Linked DNA regions of Homo sapiens: region 2 is linked to region 1. A link means that fine-mapping ties the variant in region 1 to the expression of a gene that starts in the linked region. Tissue or cell type: tibial artery. Region 1 holds a variant in brackets; the other region holds the start of a gene. All regions are shown on one strand. Distances are between the middles of the regions.

Evidence for each region. PIP is the estimated chance that this variant, and not a neighbour inherited with it, causes the effect.
Region 2: it holds the start of ITGB3BP, and the variant in region 1 is fine-mapped to the expression of ITGB3BP in tibial artery (GTEx, PIP above 0.99).

Annotation. Positions count from the first base shown.
Region 1 is chr1:63,061,071-63,066,294 of GRCh38, forward strand. No RefSeq gene overlaps it. Among named protein-coding and RNA genes, the nearest start is that of LINC01739, 51 kb to the left of the region's middle. The variant T/C (reference allele first, on the strand shown) is at 2,663.
Region 2 is chr1:63,521,364-63,525,363 of GRCh38, forward strand. ITGB3BP (integrin subunit beta 3 binding protein) reads right to left here and starts at 1,862. Exons shown (of 9, transcript NM_014288.5): 1 at 1,766-1,862. The coding sequence starts at 1,770. It overlaps EFCAB7 (EF-hand calcium binding domain 7), which reads left to right and starts at 2,162. Exons shown (of 14, transcript NM_032437.4): 1 at 2,162-2,271. RefSeq lists enhancers at 1,261-1,884, 2,046-2,125.

The DNA.
Region 1 (5,224 bases):
TATATTTATACATATATATATGTATGGGGATTTATTTGGGGAATTGGCACTCAATTATGGAGGCCAAGAAATCCTACAATCTGCCATCTGTGAGCTGCAGAACGAGGAAAGCTATTGGTGTAATTCAGTCCAAGTCCAGAGGTCTGAAAACTAGGGGAGCTGATGATATAAGGCCTGATCTGAGTCTGAAGACTGAGAAGCAGGAGTGCTGATGACGTCCAAGGGCAGGAGAAGAGAGACGTCCCAGCTCAAAGAGATAGAAGATTCAGGCTTCCTCTACCTTTTGTTCTATTCAGGCTACCAGTGGGTTGAATGATGCCCGTGCACATTGGGGACGGCAATGTAGTGAGTCTACCAATCCAAATGCTAATCTCTTCCAGGACCACCCTCACAGGCACACCCAGAAATCATGTTTTACCAGCTATCTGGGTATCCCTAGCCCAGTCAAGTTGACATATAAAAGTAACCATCACAATGCATGTGATTCAGACATGGATATAAATAATTACAATACAGTCTGAACACCTTATAATAGAAGTATAAATAAATAATCATAGCAAAAAAGAGGTGCAACTGACCAGCTTTGCCATGAAAAACAGGGAAGCTTTTATAGAGGAGGTGACATCTGAAAGGGCCTTGATGTAAGAATAGAAGTTCACCAGATAGTGGCGGGAGAAGGACATCCCAGAGAGAGAAAACAGCACATGCAGAGAGAAAGAGAATGTAAAGAGAGATAGGGAGGGTAGGCACTCATGGCATGTTTGAAGAGTGAACATTATTTTAGTACAGTTGAAGTGTAGGTTGTATGACAAGCAGTGGCTCGAGATGAGGCTAGAAAGGTAAGTTAGGACTAAATTATGGTGGGCCTTAAAAGCCATACTGAGGATTTGGGGCTCTAGCTTATGGATCATACATCTTTAGCACCTAACAGAGTTCCTGGAACATAGTAGATCCTCAATAAATATTTGTTGAGTTTGTTGTAGTAATTGAAATGGTTTCCCATTTATCCAAACACCCAACTCTCCAGCCTTTTAGCCTTTGAAAGAAGGAAAAATGTATAGGGAAAAAGAAGCGGCAGCCCAGTGTGGTGGCTCATGCCTGTAATCTCAGCACTTTGGGAGGCCGAGGCATGTGGATCATGAAGTCAGGAGATTGAGACCAGCCTGGCCAACATGGTGAAACCCCATCTCTACTAAAAATACAAAAATTAGCCGGGCATGGTGGTGGGTGCTGTAATCCCAGCTACTTGGGAGGCTGAGGCAGGAGAATCGCTTGAACCTGGGAGGCGGAGGTTGCGGTGAGCTGAAACCATGCCACTGCACTCCAGCCTGGGCAACAAGAGCAAAACTCTGTCTAAAAAAGAGAAAAACAAGCCAAGTGAGGAGACAAGGGGCAGATGATGGCGCAGAATAAAGCCACCAGAAGAAATGGCATGGGATTTGTTGCTGGACTCCCAGGTTTGAAACCTTGCCTTGGCACTTGCCATTTGTGAGAACTTTGACAAGTCAAGCAACTGCCTGAGTTTAGTTTCCACATTAGTAAATGGGAGTGATAATAGTATTTGCCAAACTACAGCATTGTGTGAAGGACCATTCCAGATTTCAATGAAAGCTCTTTAGACCTGGCAAAAGTTACTCACATTTAGGGCAAACCTGAGGCCATTCAAGGGAAGGTAAGGGTCTCAGGGGTGGAGGGGAGGGGGGTGGGGCATTACACATGGAGATAGGGAACCTGACAGCCCAGGATGACTGATTCCCATTTTCCAGGGCAGTGAGAGCCTTGCTAACACTGGCAAATGATTGCCATTTCCCTTGTCAGGCAGTGACAGGAGTTAGTTGACCTGAAAATTCACTAATAGTTCCATTAGAGAGGCCTTGGAAGTAGCCATCTTTTTACTCATCCTGGTCAATTAACAATGAATTAATGCCAGATGTATTTTCAATTGAGCTGAATGCTGATTTCCCCCCATTTTACTAAAAATAGCCCTTTATAGAGGGACAGCTAACCAGGAAATATCCTGCTTTTCTTCCCAAGTCTGTTCTGGAGCATTTCTGAACCAATGTTGGCTCTCGGCAATGAGATAGTATGTCAAACCCTGAATTCGAGATAGGATACCCAGGTTTAAGTACCAGCGTCCTCCGACACCAGCTTCATGTTCTTCAACAAATAACTGAAACTTTCTGAAGCTCAGTGTTTTCACATGTAAATTGAAAAGGCAGGGATGAATCTTAGTCCCTTTCAGCAATAAAATGTTAGGAGACCATTTTAACGTGGTTTTGGGCACGTTGGTGCAATGGCAGGTTGGACCTGGGGGTGGGGAAGGGGCGCTGAATTTCTCCCATGCACTCTGAACTAGGAGTCAGGATACTGGGGTCAAGTCCTGATCCTTGTTCTTGTTCAGTGGTTCCCTACTTGGGGAGGTAGGTGGATGCAGGATACGAGGTGTGGTATTTGGTCATGTCTAGAGACATTTTTGTTGTCACCACTGGGGGGTGCTACTGGTATCTAGTGGGTAGAGGCCAAGGATGCTGCCCAACATCCCATAATGCACAGGACAGGTCCCCTGACAAACAATTGTTAGGCCCCAAATGTCAGTAGTGTCAAGACAGAAAACCTGCTTCAGTGTCTTCGTTTGTAAAATAGGGATGATAATAAAACCTGC[T/C]TCTTTCTATCATCTCACAAGGTTGACAACCAAATCAGGTAACAAATCAAAGGCGCCTTGAAACTTAAAAGTACTTTAAAATGGGGGAATAATATCTTCATTATTAACCCACTTTTGCTACTCCGTGAGCCACTTCATTGGTGTCTATTCTCTTATTCCTCTCTTGGACATAGAGTCCAATTGCTTCTCCAGCCTGTGGCAATGACTTCTGTACTTGACCTCTAGGAGATATGACTCATAGCCTTCAAACTCAAACATGCATGATAGATCCTTTATGTTTTCATTAATAAGGTATATTTCTGTTACAATCCTCCATCTGTCAGGGGTCAAACTCTTAATCTTGGACAGTACAGAATTCCTCTTCGTGTTTCCTTGAGGTTGCATTCTTGTTCCAGGGGTTTATGTAGGAGTAAGGCCCTGCAGCTGGAGAGGGGACTGTCATATTCTCGGTAGTCACCTATCTATACTAGCATTCACTGAAATGTCATCGCTTGTCGGGTCATCTACCCATCCAGATCACTGCAGGGTCCTCCTGCAGGACCACTGTTTCTCAGAGCAGGAAGAGGGCATTTTGCTGCTCTCTTGTAGCGCCCTCTATGTAGTTATCTCCCATCTATCTGCCAGATGCCCATTCAGCTGAGTCTACCTACTGTTTCATGTCATCTGAGGTCTGAACTCTCCACTACTGGCAAATTGAGCACAGGTTATCTCTGCTTTTGAATTCCCCCCAAACCTATCTGGGGTTTCCATTCCCCCTCCCTCCAGAGTTTCTGCCTTGGGGAGGTGGGTGGCAGGGCAGAGGCCCATTCTCTAGGGCACACATCCTTGTTGAATGCTCTTGCCTGACCATGGAATCTCTCTCCTCTAGTCCATCCAGTTTGCCTAACTCAGCTTATTCTAATTACCTTTATCACAACCCCTCTTTTGCAACCCCTAAGAATTTTGCTACTCCAAAGACTAAACTTTTGAAATTCAAACAACTTTTTTCCTCCAGAGAAGATATATAGGTGGCCAATAAATACATGAAAAGATGCTTAGCACCCCTAGTAATGAGGAAAATACAAATCAAAACCACAATGAGATGTCATGTCACATATCTCAGGATGGCTATTATCCCAAACAACAGCAGCAACAAAACAAAAACAGAAAATAAGAAGTGCTGGCAATAATGTGGAGAAATTGGAATGCTTGTGCGTTGTTGGTGGGAATGTAAAATGTTACAAGCACTGTGAAAACTAGTATGGTGATTCCTGGCCAGGCGCGGTGGCTCATGCTGGTAATCCCAGCACTTTGGGAGGACAAGGCGGGCGGATCACTTAGGGCCAGGAGTTCAAGACCAGCCTGGGCAACATGGCGAAACCCCCTCTCTACTAAAATACAAAAATTAGCCAGGTGTGTTGGTACATGCCTGTAGTCCCAGCAACTTGGGAGGCTGAGGCAGGAGAATCGCTTGAACCCAGGAGGTGTAGGTTGTAGTGAGCCAAGATTGCACCATTGCACTCCAGCCTGGGTGACAGAGTGAGATTCCATCTCAAAAAACGAGCAAACAAACAAAAAGCTACTATGGTGATTCCTTAAAAAATTATACCATATAGTCCAGCAATTCCACTTCTGGGCATATACCCAGAAGAAGTGAACACAAGGACTCAAACAGCTATTTGTACACCCATGTTCACAATAGCATTATTCACAAGAGCCAAAAGGTAGAAGCAAATCAAATGTTCATTGATGGCTGAATGGAACAACGAAATATGGTCCATACATACAGTGGATTTATTTAGCTTTAAAAAGGAAGAAAACTCTGACAGATGCTACAACATAGATGACTCTTGAAAACATTATGCTAAGTTAAATGAGCCACATATAAAAGGACAAATATTATATGATTCCACTTCCACGAAGTACCTAGAGTGGTCAAATGCATAAGACAGACAGTAGAATGGCGGCTGCCAGTTGGGGAAGGGAATGGGGAGTTCATCTTTAATGGTTACACAGTTTTGGTTTGGGAAGATGAGCATGTTCTGGAGAACTTTTGCACAACAATGTGAAAGTACTTAATGCCATAGAGCTGTACACTTAAAAATGGGTAAAATGGTAAATTTTATGTTATGAATATTTTACCACAAGTTAAAAAAACCTTTTTTCCTCTTTTCTTCTGCAGCCAACCTTACTTAACAATCTGGTTGGATGAGGAAGAGGTATCACGGAAAATAATGAAATAGCTAAAAAAAAATACAGCTAATATATGAAAATATTATCTTATCCCAGACCTACCAAACAGATTTTCTTTGTCTTTTCCTCGGAAAAGCAGAATCACCATGGTGATGTAGAATCTAATTGTCAAAGGAAAAAGTCAATCAGGATCAATTCATTGCAAGCTTATTGTATCCTTTATTCCAATTTTCTAATCTAAATTTGGATCCCTGGCCAAATCTCTGTTTTTCTCTTTCTTTCTCTCCCTTTCTCTCTCCTTCCCTCCCTGCCCCACCTCCCTCTTTCTCTCTTTTAAGATTTACCTAATTAGGAGCGACTAATAGTGGTCACCATTTTTCCAGTTTTTGA
Region 2 (4,000 bases), 460 kb after region 1:
TTTGCTAAAACTTAGAAAATTAGCAAAGTAATTGCTAGTTTCACATATATATTAGCTATATATGTGAGATGTTAACCTCAACTTTAAGGTTGTGTATTTATTACCAGAATATACTTATCTAAAAGCCTAATATAACATCTTGTGTGCATATGTTAGGAAGACAGTTGTCAAAAAGGTCCACTTTTAGGCCTGACACAGTGGCTAACTCCTATAGTCCCAGCACATTGGGAGGCTGAGGTGGAAGGATCACTTAAGCCCAGGACTTCAAGACCAGGCTGGGCAACACAGGGAGACACTGTCTTTACAAAATAAAAAAATTAGGCATGGTGGCATGTGGGAGCCCAGGAGGTAGAGGCTGCAGTGAGCTGTGATCACAGCACTGCACTCCAGCCTGGGCAACAGAGCCAGACTCTGCCTCAAAAAAAGAAAAAAAAAGTTCCACTTTTCATAGTTTTTTGGTTCCCCACTCCTATACACAGATACACACAGTTCAGGAGGTATTACCACTTGTTTGGCAAATACACCTCTGTTTTCACTGTATTCTTAGGGATTTTGTGTGTGTGATTGTGTGACATTATCTTTGCAGCTTTGTTTATTTGAGAACTGGATGATTTTTCTAATGCAAGAGTAGGGAAACAAGTCTCTTTGCTTAATTCTGGGGAAAGGAAAACCTCCTCAATAATCCATAACTTTTAAGGGCATCAGTAAAACATGCATTTATTGGCAGCTGTGTTGAACACCCTATTAGGTGATGGGTTTCTTTATCTGTAAAGATAATAGCAGCCCCCATCCCCTAAAGTATTTTAGGATTCAATGAAAAAACGTAGATAAATTGATTAATACAGCACCCACATTGTAATTCAAGATTCAATAAATATAGGTTATCATTTCTGTACAGCTTTCCCCTTTCATGTCAATTCCTATTTGATACAAAAATTTCCCCAGCTGTGTTACTTTGCATTTTACTTAATCCTGAAATAAACTAAGGAACAGGTTACACTAGAGGGGGTACCTAAATCAACCTGAGGACAAGGACGGCCAAGGAGAAATTACAGGTGTTTGATATCCACCCCACTCCCCCAACCTTTAATGGCTTTTTTAAGTTTCTATAGGGTAGCAACTATTTTATGCATCTCAATATAGGATGGATGAAGGATATGAAAAACAGATGAATCTTATCTAGCACAATGCCTATTCCCACTATGGTCATTCTCAATAATCAGATTATTGGTCATAGATGGGAATTTAGAGATCATGCAGTACAAACTTATTTGTGTAAGTAAAAAAAAACGAAGCTCAGGGTCGATAAGTGACTTGCCCAACAGTGAAAGAGTCTTATCTGGAATCCAGGTATCTAGACCCACTCAGTCCATGAGTTCTCCCACGGGTTTACACGAACGCGCCACATTAATGAAGGCAAGGGACTGACAAACTACGAAGGCGTGTTTTCATCTACTCTGTCCCATCCTGTGTGTCAACCTTATTTATGTTATTTCAAGTTAGACATCACCTAAATACAGCCCACAGTTTACGAAATCTGTCAAAAGCATCGTAGAAACAGAAAGCGAAGGAGGACTATCGTATGAGTACCGCTGGAGGAGACGTAGAGTTGAGGGTACCAAGCGAAGGGAATTGCCTGTGGACAGAGGAGACAAGTTCATACTCCGAAAAAATAGGAAAACGAGAAAGGCTACTGGGCCACATAATATCTTCTCTTCTTGCAGAGGGCCCCCAAAACAGCAATACCTGGGGAGGAGATACCTACGGCATTCTGAGATTCGGGAAAGCACCACTGCCGCTGAATAAAACGAACCCAGCAACTTCCGAAAACAGAAAATCCGCCAAAGGAAACGCCAAGGCATGAAAAGCGCGCGCTGGACGTTGCGTCAAGCCCACCGCGGCCGGGCGGAAACATCCTCCCCGCGACGAAGGATCCGGGTGTGCGCGAGCAAAGGAGCGAGCGGGGAGTTCTAGGCCCAGGACAGCACCTATTTCCTGCTGGTGTAACAGAGCACCTTCTCTCACTACTCTGGCCATACCACCCCCGCGATAGAGGAGCAACACAGCTGTCTCTGTGCGCTCCGGATCAGCGCTTCCTAGATTTCTAGCCGGATCGTTTGGAGAAGGGCTCTGCATCTTATTTCCGGTGGCGGTGAGGTGCAGTTGCCATGGTGATTAGAGAAAGGCCGAGATCTGTCCAGCTGCGGTGAGAGGAACGCTGAATCGCCGAAGAGAATTGGCTGCGCTTCCTTGTTTGTGAGCTAGAATTAGGTAGCAAACAGCTCGCTGTCTCTGTCTCTTCGCTCCCTCTGTCCCTCTCTGTGCAGCTGCTTCTCCTTCCTCTGCTTTGTCTACTTCTCTGTCATAAACATTTGGTCCATGTATGTACCTAAAATGTACATGTAAATGCGGTTTTATTTCCAGAGGAATACAAAAATAGAGAGATGGTGCCCGAGATTACCTGTGACGGTATTTCACTGTGTAGGGACGGTGACTGGACGGCTTTCTGTTTTCACTTGGCCCTGTAGAAGCCTTAGGCGCTTGTTAACAGTTTATTTTTCTTGCTATTGTGTGGCTGGTTATTTATGGAGCCGTTTGCTGCAATGTACTCTCTAGGCCCCTGTCTCAGTCTCGGGCCGGAGTTTTAAGTAAGGGAGGTTTCCAAGCCTGCGGGGGGTGCAATTATATGTTTATTTAAGCTTTAGTTTGGTTTCTCGTCACAGAAAGGAAAAGAATAAAATTCTGGCACATTTCTGCCTTGGGATTTCCATGTGAGGGAGTTGCCTTGTTTGGAAAGAATATTTGAGGACGATCCTAAAATATACTTATATTTTAAAATTGCTTATTGCAAAGTGAAATTCATTCTCCCTTACTTCTTGAAACAGTTTTCTTTCACATTTGTGAGGAGATGCATGCACACATATGTGTTTAGAACTCTGATGCTTAATTATAGTATTACCAATTTGCAGTAACCAGACTGTGACACCACATCCCTGTGGGGTCCTTCTAAATCTGGTGTAATATGAAAGTGTCAGGCAGGCGGCCTGCGTATTATAAATAGGGTACTTCATCCATGATAAGCAATTATTATCTTTCTTTCCCAAGTGTAAATGATCTATATAATTCGAAAAGGTGCAAGTGATTTAGGCCTCCTGAGTAGGAATGCAATGAGTCCTGAAGGGGACCCTACCTGTGTTATCTTATTATTGAACTTGAAATATTCAATTTATTAGGTTGGAGATCTATTTTTAGAAGTCAAAGCTGGGTAGAGTAATATTGGAAGCTGTTAGACCACCAGTAGAATCTAATACCCCATAGTAACCATTGTTCAGTACTATATCCACATTAACAAAGAAGAAACTGTTCGTGAAATTTACGGCTTTTTGCCACTTACTGCTAGCTGGGTGACATTGCTACCCCTCAATTTCCTCATCTGTAAAACGGACAAAAAAATACCTGACCGCTGTAATAGGGATAAGACAAGATGTATGACAGTTCTTTAAGCTCTTATGTACAGAGGTGCTATACAAACCCCAAATATTGTTATTAATAAAGGAACACAGTAAAACTATGATAATGCTATAAATAAGACTTTTAAAATATAGCTATTTGAAATGTGGGGCTGCATTATTGAGATGTTAATGAAATGATCTTGTTGATCCTGCTGTGGAAGATGGGTGTCAACTACCACTCATATCCCGATTCTCATTATTCTGGAGTTTCTCATTATCTGCAGTTTATTTAGCACTTACTACGTGTCAAGCAATATTGTATATGCTTCACATGTATTAACTGATTTGCTCCTCTTAAAAACCTGATGAAGACTGTCATCTGACTTTCGTATTTTGAGAGAATAGATGTGTGCTCTTCCTTTGTTCAGTGATTCTTCTCTTGTGTATATCTTTGTTCTTTTGGCTATTATCACATATTTGAACAATTATATATATACATATGTATATATCTAAAATTAGAAATTAACTGCCAAAGGCTTATTCTTGTT